Homo sapiens: one gene and its partners. The protein of the gene in region 3 purifies or fractionates together with the protein of the main gene of each other region. This does not show direct contact. Each region holds a gene or a part of one and is shown on either strand. Other genes may lie near its edges. The genes, in order: MYO18A, FKBP5 and CDKL4.

What was found.
Region 1: the proteins of CDKL4 (region 3) and MYO18A purify together in Homo sapiens (affinity purification with mass spectrometry; 3 studies listed by BioGRID and IntAct, with this or other methods). This does not show direct contact.
Region 2: the proteins of CDKL4 (region 3) and FKBP5 purify together in Homo sapiens (affinity purification with mass spectrometry; 3 studies listed by BioGRID and IntAct, with this or other methods). This does not show direct contact.

Annotation. Positions count from the first base shown.
Region 1 is NC_000017.11:29,117,766-29,121,516, forward strand, and holds part of MYO18A (unconventional myosin-XVIIIa), read right to left. Parts: intron 3,447-3,751; coding exon 3,233-3,446; intron 2,994-3,232; coding exon 2,851-2,993; intron 1,671-2,850; coding exon 1,570-1,670; intron 676-1,569; coding exon 612-675; intron 425-611; coding exon 280-424; intron 1-279.
Region 2 is NC_000006.12:35,682,165-35,685,915, forward strand, and holds part of FKBP5 (peptidyl-prolyl cis-trans isomerase FKBP5), read right to left. Parts: intron 1-3,751. UniProt on the Homo sapiens protein: Immunophilin protein with PPIase and co-chaperone activities. Component of unligated steroid receptors heterocomplexes through interaction with heat-shock protein 90 (HSP90).
Region 3 is NC_000002.12:39,188,364-39,192,114, forward strand, and holds part of CDKL4 (cyclin-dependent kinase-like 4), read right to left. Parts: intron 2,140-3,751; coding exon 1,942-2,139; intron 1,097-1,941; exon of another isoform or gene 984-1,096; intron 1-983.

The DNA of each region.
Region 1 (3,751 bases), on a different chromosome or scaffold from region 3:
TGCCCTTCTCATCCCTCAGCCTCTGAACCCCCAGCCCTCCATGCTTCCTCATGGTGCCCCCCAGCACAGCCAGCTAAGTCCAGGCCTCGGGTCGTCACTGCCAAAGATGCTTCCCGGGCCTTCTGCTCTGAAGTGGGGGGCTGAGAAGAGGCACAAGCAAAAGAGGGTTGTCTCAGAACGGCTAAGTCTGTGCTGGGCAAGAATAAACTGGGAGTGGGCAGGGTCCCTGTGAGGTCACCCAGGGGACAGGCCAGCCTACTGGGACCCACTGCAGGTTACCTTTGGTGGCTCCCGCAGCCCCCAGGTGGTAGATGGCAGCCAGAATGAACCAGCAGGCCTTCTGTTCATCGGGGGAGATGCCCAGCACCTTCATGGCCGCCTGCAGCTTACTAAACTGCTGAGCTGCCTTCTGCTTTTCCTCAGGCTGTGGAGATAGATGACCTCAAAGGGCTGTCCCTCCCAGCACACCCCCATGAGGCTGGGCCCTCAGGGCAAGGCTTGGGTAGAGCCAGCAGCTGGAGCTGGGCTCCCACTATTCCCACAGGACCCATGGAGGCTTCTCCTACCCCCAAGGCCCAGGGCTGGCAACCCAGACCCCACAGACCCCTCACCTTGGCCAGTGGCACAATCCCAAACACATTGTTCTCTGCCAAGTGGTTGAGGTGGAGCTCTGTCCTAGGGGTACAAATAAGGCATCAGCACGGCACTTGGTCCCCATGCCAAGGCCATTTCCGCCCAGGGTGGAGACAGACAGACTCAGCTTCCAGACTCCAAGTTTTGTCTGCCCATCATCCCATCATCCCCAACTGGCGGGCCAGCTGTCACTGCTTTCCTAACTGGCCTGGATGCCTGGTTAGAGTACCATTCTCCTGAGGACAAGCCACCAGACATGCCCTGGTGAGAGGATGCAACCTGGCCCCCGGAAGGGAGCAGGGAACCTGCCCGAAGGGTGAGTCCCGCCAAGGCAGAGACGATGCCCTCAGTTACAAGAAGGGCTAAAGAGGACAATGGCCTGGGGATGCTGGCTCAGCCTCATCATTTATCTCTTTTTAGTGAACACACGCGGCAAATCTGAATGTCTGAAGGGAAGAGCGTGGCAGAGGCAGCCAACGTGGGGCAGGAAGGGCTAGTCTGGAGGGCACTGGAAGAGGCATGGGCTTTTGGCCCCAGTGTGGATTCAAATACCAGTTCAGCCCCCTACCAGTCATGCGACAGTAGGCAAGTCCCCAACCACTGGTACCTCAGTGTGCTTTGCTTTCCAGAACTGGCTTCATGGGTAATGGAGATCCTAGCTAGGCCCTGGCAACACTGAAGGGCTGGCTGTTCCCCTCCAATACAGCCAGGCCCCAGTACCCAGGACCAGGGAGTTCTTGATAGGCAGGGACTATGTCTCATCCATCTCACTGTCCCTGGGGCCTAGCTCAGAGCCTAGCACATAGCAGACATGCACTGACCAAACAGTGCAGGATGCGATCAAGTGGCTTTAATTCTGGATGCAATCAAGGTCCAGGAGCCCAGTCAGTGGGCTGGAGTTCAGAGAACCCTTGTGTACCCTCTGACCCATCTCACCTGAGGGTGCCATCCCCACAGGCCAGCAGGTAGTAGAAGACGTTGAATGTGGCTTCACTGGCTGGGCGCCGAGCCACACGCAGCTTCTCCAGAAGCATTGTCTGTGACACAGCATGGACGTGTGGGTAAGGAGGGTAGTGCCAGATCAAGTTTCTCCCACCCCACATAAGAAGGAATCAAACACATGGTCCTCTAGGCCCTGGGGAACAAGCAGCTGCATTTTTTTTTTTTTTTTTTTTTAAGATTTGAGATGGAGTCTCACTCTGTCACTCAGGCTGGAGTGCAGTGGAGCGATCTTGGCTCACTGCAACTTCTGCCTCCTGGGTTTAAGCAATTCTCCTGCCTTGGCCTCCTGAGTAGCTGGGATTACAGGCATGCACCACCATACCCGGCTGATTTTTGTGTTTTTAGTAGAGATGGGGTTTTGCCATGTTGGCCAGGCTGTTCTTGAGCTCCTGACCTCAGGTGATCCACCCACCTCAGCCTCCCGAAGTGCTGGGATTACAGGCGTGAGCCACCGCACCCAACCTGCATCTTGTTTTTTAAGTCTTTTTTTTTTAAGATAGGGTCTCGCTCTGTTGCCCAGGCTGGAGTGCAGTGGCGCAATCACAGCTCGCTGCAGCCTTAACCTCCCAGGTTCAAGTGACCCTCCCATTTCAGCCTCCCAAGTAGCTGGGACCACAGGCGTGCACTACCACATCTGGCTCAATTAAGCAGGTGCATCTTATTCCCAAGGTGCTCAATCAGATACCAGATCCCTCTAGGATCAAATGGGGGACAGAAACCAGAATGAGGTGGAAGAAGACAGGCCCAGCTCCCAAAGGGGCCCTGCTGCTCTGCCCAGACCCCAGGTGCCTGCCTTCTGGAAATGGGAGCTTGTGGTGAGGTATTTAGCATGGGAGGGAATCAGCCTTGGCTGGGCCTTACTTTACTGACAAGCCAGTCCTCTGCTAGGTGAAATCGGCCCGAGAGAAGCCCCGAGCATGAATCTCAGAAAGTGGGAAGTAAGGCTGAGGCCCAGCAGTAGAGTTAGGACAACCCCAGGGTTGGGAGAGTGAAGGGAACTGGGCAGAAAGCTGGACTGGCCCCATCCAGGGCAGGAGGCCCTGAGGGCAGAATGGTGATGCCTCTGGATAGTGCAGGCCAACCCTGCCCATGCCTGGGTCAATTTTGTTAGGGTAGAATCCCAGGAAAATGAGGCATGGGAGAGAGCCTGATGTCTAGGTCATGAAATCATGTGGCCTGTGTCCTACTACCCCGAGTCCTGGGCAGCACTCTCACCTGAATGGAGGCTGAGGCCACCTGGCCAGCTTGGTCAAAGTCCAGGGAGAGGATCTGGGAGAAGCGGGTGGCATTGCCATTAATGATGGTGGGGCTGTTCCCAAAGGCTTCCAGGAGGGTGTACAGAGCCTGCCACTTCTCCACTGCAGAATACAGGCCCAAGGGGATATCAGGAAAGCCAGGGGCAGCTTATCCCCCAGCTAGGAGCTACCCCAGAGGTATGAAGGCTTGGGGCCATTCAGACCAGAACTGCCCGTGGACAGAGGGGTTTCGGGGGGATGGAAAGGCCAGGGAGAAAAAGAGCTGGCACTTAAGAGGGTGCTCTCTCCTCACTCCCCTCCCCTCACCCCACTTTCAGTTTTCTCCCTTGTCCCTGCCTCACCAGAAAACACCTTGTTCCCGCTGATGCCCGCGATGGTGGCCAGGTACTGCACCAGATGCTGGCAGCTGGTGGTCTTGCCACTGCCACTACTGCCCAGGAGGATGATTGACTGATCCTGACGGCTCATCAGCATCGCCCTGTATGCGGTCTGGGCCACTGCATAGATGTGGGGTGCCATGTCCTCCCGCCGACAACCCTTGAACATGTGCATCACCTTGGGCAGGAGAGCAAGGGAGAGAAGGGGTTGGCTCTTAGCTGATCCCATTAAGACACCCCTCACCCCCAAGGTCCACATCTTTCTGGATTTTCCCTCCTGTAGTGCCCAGGGATTCCAAGGCCAAGGCCATGCATGGAAATGAAGACACTAAGTCCTGGACTCCATCAAAGGTTGTGGGGAGGTCCTGTCCCCCATCTCTTGAAATGACTCCTCTTCCCAAGGTCAACTGTGAGAGTGGACAGGAGCCCAGTGGGGTGCCACAGGGGAAGGGCAGAGAGCCAGGGCAGGGGGTGGGACCAGGA
Region 2 (3,751 bases), on a different chromosome or scaffold from region 3:
GCTAGCAACAAAACCCAAAATATGTGTTCAGATTACAAGACTGTTTTTATTGTCTTGCTTTTTTAAAAAAGTTAAACATGGAAAAACTTAATTAATTAATATCTAACATGGGTAAAGAACATTCCATGCTCATTCAGAATATATTCTGATGCAGACTCAATCTCTAAGATGTTTTCTCCATTCCAAAAAGTAACCTATCGCAGCATTATGTCCATGACTGGGACATCTTGACTTTCAAATTCACTGTGCAATTTTCAGCTAACAATGGAGGAGGTTCTTTAGTTTCCAGAGATAGGAACACTGAGAACAAGTACAAATCTAACTTTTGAAAAGATCAATCTGAAATTTGCAACCCTGCTTTTGATAATGAAATGACCATTTTCTGGGGACTCCTCATTTATAACATCTTTAAATTGCCAAGTTTAAAACAGAATGCTACAAATGATTCTAGAAATTTACCACTGCCCACTTAGGATTTGCAACTACAAAAGGGAAAAAACAACCCTCTTCCAGTCTGATTTTTCTTCATCTCTTATTCTTCTTTCCAAAAAACGAACAATTTCAAAAGGATACAATTCAAATGTACTACATTTTTAAGCCAGGCATGGTGGCTTGGGCCTGGGATCCCAGCACTTTGGGAGGCTGAGACAAGAGGATTGCTTGAGCCCAGGAGTTTGTGTCGAGGCTGCAGTTAGCCACCACACTTCAGCCTCGGTGACAGAGCAAGAAACAATCTCTTTTAAAAAAAAAAAAAAAGAAAAAAAAGTATATATATATATATCCCATTTCTTTTTTAAAAAAAGGTTAAAAACATACGTCAATCTCTTTAAAATGTATGTATGTGTCTGTGTGTATATATATGTCTCTTCCAATCTTTTTCTTAAAAAAAGTATAGAAATATATATCCCAAGCTCTTTCTTTAAAAAAAAAAGTGTGTGTGTATATATATACGTATATGTGTGTGTGTGTGTGTGTGTGTGTGTGTGTGTGTGTGTGTGTGTGTGTGTGTGTGTATTTGAGACTGGGTCTTGCTCTGTCCCCCAGGCTGGAGTATGGTGGCTCACTGCAGCACTGAACTCCTGGGCTCAAGTGATTCTCTTGCTTCACCCTTCCAAAGTGCTGGGATCACAGATACAAGCTACCACACCTGGAGAACTTTATATTTTTTGTAGAAATGGGGTCTTACTATGTTGCCCAGGCTGGTCTCTAACTCCTGGGCTCAAGCAACCCTCCTGCCTTGGCTTCCCAAAGTGTTGAGGTGTTGACATTACAGGTGTGAGACATCATGCCTGGTATATATATATACTTTTTTTTTTATTGAGATGGAGTTTCACTGTGTTGCCCAGGCTGGAGTGTAGTGGTGCAATCTCAGCTCATTCCAACCTCCACCTCCCAGGTTCAAGTAATTTGCTTGCCTCAGCCTCTTGAGTAGTTGGGACTAAGGGCATGCACTGCCATGACTGGCTAATTTTTTTTTTTTTTTTTTTTTTTTTTAGTAGAGATGGGGTTTTGCCATGTTGGCCAGGCTGGTCTCCAACGCCTGACCTCCTGGCCTGGCCTATATTTTTAATCTTATAAAACATTATCAGAATTTGGACATTCCTAGGCTGGGCATGGTGGCTCACACCTGTAATCCCAGCACTTTGGGAGGTCGAGGCAGGCGGATCACCTAAGATCAGGAGTTTAAGACCAGCCTGGCCCTGGCCAACATGGCAAAACCTCGTCTCTACCAAAAATACAAAAATTAGCTGGGCGTGGTGGTGTGTACCTGTAATCCCAGCTACTCAGGAGGCTGAGGCAGGAAGAATCGCTTGAACCAATGGAGGTTGCAGTGAGCGGAGACTGTACCGCTGCACTCCAGCCTGAGCAACAGAGCAAGACCCTGTCTCAAAAAATAATAATAATAAAATAAAGAATTTGGACATTCCTTAGCTTTCACAGATGTGTGACTGTTTACTTAAAAACCCATTATTTCACTTTGAAAATACATCATTTTCATTTTTCCAGTAATTGTATCTTTTTTTTTTTTTTTAAGGCAGGGTCTCGCTCTGTTGTCCAGGCTGGAGTACAATGGCTTAATCACCGCTCACTGCAGCCTCAACCTCCCAGGCTCAAGTGATCCTCCCACCTCAGCCTCCCAAGTAGCTGGGACTACAGGTGTACTCCACCACACCTGGCTAACTTTTGTACTTTTGTAGAGAGGAGGTTTCACCATGTTTCCCAGGCTGGTCTCAAATTCCTGGGCTCAAGCAATCCACGTGCCTTGGCCTCCCAAAGTGCTGGCATTACAGGCGTGAGTCACTGCACCTCGCCACCTTTTTCTAAGAAGAAAAACAGCCTTGATTAAGCCTTGATTTTGATAACAAAAATGACAGCAACTCCAAACAACTACAATCACAATTTTCAATATCTTTTGACTGATTGTTTTAGAGAACTAAAATAAAATCTTATTCTTATTTTTTAAATGTTTTGATTCCAGACCAAGGGTAAAAAACAAATACAACAAATATATAGACCCCACACTCCCTCTGGTGGACCTTCACTTTCATTAACCAAATGTTTTCCAAGAGGCTATAAGTCGGCCTGGCACTGTGGCTCGCACTTATAATCCCAGCACTTTGGGAGGCCAAAGCAGGAGGATCACTTGAGCTCAGGAGTTGGACACCAGCCTGGGCAACATAGTGAGACCTTATCTCTACTAAAAATTAAAAGTTTTAAAAATTAGCCAGGTGTGGTGGTGTGTGCCTGTAACCCCAGCTACTTGGGAGGCTGAGGTGGGAGGATCACTTGAGACCAGGTGGTTGGGCAGGAGGATCTCTTGAGCCTGGGAAGTCTGCAGTGAGCCATGATGACACCACAGCACTCCAGCCTGGGCAATAAAGCAAGACCCCGACTCAAAAAAAAAAAGACTAGAAGTAAATACTAAATTAAGCATAAAATGTAGGTTCTCAAACTACTATAAGAAGTACAAATTATTTTGAGTAGTGGAATTTTAGTGTTCTAAATATTGTTAAAATATCCTTATTAATCTGTTAGTAACCTGCTAGTACATATGGCCCCACTGTAAATTATTTTAGCCAGTCTCATTTGGCAGTACTGTCTTTTACATAGTAAATAAACATCTCATTTGCAAATTAAATTACACTTAAGTGGTTATTGTTTTAAATCAATAGTTATGTGACATACATACCACCACCACCCAGTCGCTACTGAATGTAGATTTAATTTTCTTTATACTTTTGGGGATATGATGTCAGAATTTTAAAATGCACTAAAATGTACTGCAGAAAAATTTAGAAATATAAAATACTTAAAAAACAAAATCTACTAATCAGCTAAGTTGTAAAGTTCAAATAGTTTCAGAATTATAAAATGCAGATATTTGTTAAACATGAATTACAAAATTTAGTGTGCCAATATGTATAATATAGATTATTCTTTAGGAATTATGAAAACTTATTTTAATTAATGGTCTTTAGAGGAATTCTTCATGCCGGGTACAGCAAGCATATTACTGTTAAATAAAGCAATACTAGGCTAGGCGCGATGGCTCACGCCTGTAATACCAGCACTTTGGGAGGCTGAGGCGGGTGGATCACCTGAGGTCAGGAGTTCGAGACCAGCCTGGCCAACATGGCAAAACCCCGTCTCTACTAAAAATACAAAAATTAGCCGGACATGGTGGCGCAGGCCTGTAGTGTCAGCTACTCAGGAGGCTGAGGCAGGAGAATCGCTTGAACCCGGGAGGCAG
Region 3 (3,751 bases):
CATCCTGGCCAACATGGTGAAACCCCGTCTCTACTAAAAATACAAAAAATTAGCTGAGTGTGGTGGTGCGCACCTATAGTCCCAGCTACTTAGGAGGCTGAGGCAGGAGAATCGCTTGAATTTGGGAGGCGGAGGTTGCAGTGAGCCAAGATCACACCACTGCACTCCAGCCTGGCAACAGAGTGACAGTCCGTCTCAAAAAAAAAAAAAAAAAAAAAAAAAAAAAAGACAAGGTGAGAGAATGGTACTATGGTCTTTACACACATTATCTCATTTAATCTCATAAATGAGATTTTATGAGACTTCATCTCATAATCTCACAACAATAGTTGTTATTATTTTTTCAGACAGGGTCTCTCTCTGTTGCCAAAACTGGAGTGCAGTGGCATGATCATGGCTCACTTCAGCCTCGATCTCCCAGTCTCAAGCAATCCTTCCACCTTAGCCTCCCGAGTAGCTGGAACTACAAGCATGCGCCATCATGTCCAGCTAATTTTTAAAAATTTTTTGCAGATATGGGGTCTGCCTATGTTGCCCAGCCTGGAGTAGTTGCTATTTTAAATCCCCATTGTGCCAATGAGGAAAATGAGGCTTAGAGAAATTTAATAACTTGTCCAAGATCACACAGTAACTTAACAGATCCAGGATTTAAACTCAGGTATGTAATGTAAATTTCCAGAATCTTTTTAGGGAATGAATCAGACAAACAAAGTGTGGCCTGCAGTGGTAATCTACCCCACATTTTTCATGCTGCAGAATTTTCCATAATATGTTGGAACTGACCAGGGAACTGTCCAGCAGCCATGCTGCCAGGAGAGCCTGTGGGAAGAAATTAACAAATTCTCATTTTGTGTGTAGAGGTGTCACTTTCTTTGCATCCATGCTGTTGGCATGAAGCTGTGGCTCACTTTTCGGGTTATGCTGACACATAATGAAAGCTCACGAAAGAAACCCTTGCAGTCTCATTCCTATTCTGCACTTACCTGGCTATATGACTTCAGGCCAATCATGGAAGCTCCCTAAGCCTCTGTTTCCTCGTTTATAACATAGGCACAATTAAAAACATTATAACTTCCTTAACAGGTTTTTCTTAAGACTGAAAAAGATGATGCGTATGAAAGTAATTTGTAAATTCTTAAGTACTATACAAAGAAGATGTGTTAACATTATTCTAAACTTCAGCAGCCACCCCTAATCAGGAAGTAAAATCAGACTCTTAGGATCTCGGGCAGGAGTGTGGGCCAAATCTGGCCTACTGCCTGTTTCTGTACAGCTTGTGACCTCAGAATTGGTTTTACATTTTTAAGCAGATTTTTAAAAGTCAAAAAAGATTTTTTGATATTGTTGCACGTGAAAACTACAATAAATTAAAATTTCTGTGTCCATAAATAAAGTTCTATTGGAACACAGCTATGCTCATTTGTTGACATGCTGCGTATTGCTGCTTTTGCACTACAATAGCAGAGTTGGGGAACTGCAACAGAGGCTGTACAGCCTGCATAACCTAAAATATTTACCATATAGCTTTTTATAGAAACAAATTTGCTGATTCCTGCTCTAGAGTAAAGGGGGGAACCTCTTTTACAGTGGACAGAAATTGCATTTGATCAAATATCTTAGATTAAGCTCTAGGCAGCTGACTCATATCCTTATCCCTATCTTAGTCTGATATGGAAAGTAAATGTATAGTTTATTCCATGGCTAATTGACTTTTCCTGCAAAGGGATCTGAGAGCTCCCTGAGAGGAGTTACGGTTCTGCATGTTTAGAAAAGGATTGGGCTTTGGCTACAACCCAGAACTGAGAACAACCATCCTGAGTGACACTTTGAAGAAGCAATAAAACTCTTGTTTTTTATTTTTATTTATTTATTTTTTATTATAGTAACATATGAATGCTATAACAATTCAGCAACTCTGTTGCCATAAAATGCAATTCATACCTAGTGTTCTGATTATCAGATAAAGTTGGTCCACATCTGATTTTCCAGGCCACAGTGGCTGGCCTGTCAGGAGCTCTGCAAAAACACAACCAATAGCCCATATATCGACTGAAGAACCATACTGAGTATCTCCCACAAGAAGTTCAGGAGCTCGGTACCATCTCGTAGCTACATAATCGGTGTAGGCATCTCCTGGAACTGCAAATGCATCAATCAGATCAGGTAAGTCAATTCTCCCAACATGTGAACTGCTCCCAAGAACACATCAGGCATTCAGGCTGCAATAACCATCAGAGGCCATGATACTCTTAAGGGTTAATGCATTGAGGCACTAATTGAGGAAACAGTTACTGTGCATTGAGATAGTAAATTTGACATTCAAGAGCACTTTAGATAATTAACATCTCTTACTACTCCAAACTGGGGTGGCGGGTGGTGTGATAGGGATGGGGGGAATGAGAATTTCTGGAGTGTGACTTTAAGTCTAAACCGCATTGTTGGTTTCCACTTTACCATCAGCATGGTGGTTGTTGTGCACTGAATTGTGTCCCCTCCAAAGATAGGTTGAAGTCCTAATTCTTGCTACCTGTGAATGTGATCTTATTTGGAAATAAGGTTTTTGCAGATGTAATTAATTAGTCAAGATGAGGTCATATTAGATTAGGGTGGACTCTAAATCCAATGACTTGAATCCTTACAGGGATGCAGAGACATGGAGAATGCCAAGCGATACTGGAGGCAGAGATTGGAGTGATGCAGTTGCAAGCACAGGAATGCCAACTTTTCCCACATCCATCAGAAGCTGGGCTAGAGGCCGGGCATGGTGGCTCATGCCTCTCATCCCAGCACTTTGGGAAGCCAAGGCAAGCAGATCATTAGAGGTCAGGAGTTTGAGACCAGCCTGGGCAACATGGCAAAACCCTGTCTCTACTAAAAATACGAAAATTAGCCAGGCATGGTGGCACATGCTTGTCGTCCTAGCTACTTGAGAAGCTGAGGCAGGAGAATCACTTGAACCTGTGGAGGCTGCAGTGAGCCGTGATCATGCCACTGCACTCCAGCCTGGGCGACAGAGTAAGACTCTAACTCACACATATACAAAAAAAGAAGCTAGGATAGAGACATGGAAGGGGCCTCTCCTAGAGCCTTTAGAGGGAATGTGGCCCTGCTGAAACCTTGATGGCAGATGTCTGGCCTCCAGAATTGTGAGAAAATAGATTTCTGTTGTTTTCAGCCACTCAGATTGTGGTAATGTATCATGGCAGCCCCAGGAAACTAATGCAGCACTAGACAATTGCATAAATTAATTTTTCTATCCAAATGTGACCCACTGTGACAAAGACCTCAATTTGACTCCTTGTACTATGTATGAGTCATGTGTGATATGTGATAGACAGATGACAGAGAGCTAGGTGCACCCTCACTGCCCAGCCCTGCCCTATGCCACAGGTGTGGACTGCCTGGACCCAAGGCACCTGCCTCCAAGTGGGTGGAAGCCAATCCCAGAATCATCACAGGACCCTGAACGATCAGGAGCTGTACAAATGCATTACAGAGGAGGAACAATTGGAAAGCAGCCCGACTTGCAGAGATGAGGTAATGGGCAATTCTCCTTAGTAAAGTCGTCAGGTAGCCCCAAAGACACTGCCACAAAAGGCAGCTCAGAAAGTAGCGGCTACAGCTCTGGTCAGAGAACAGTCCTCATAGGAGTGGGAAAAGGAAATAATCTTTACTTGCTCATTGCTCTTTTATAAAGTTATATAAACTTTTGAAGGATAAAAATTAATAAATGCCATAATGGAAATTTGGA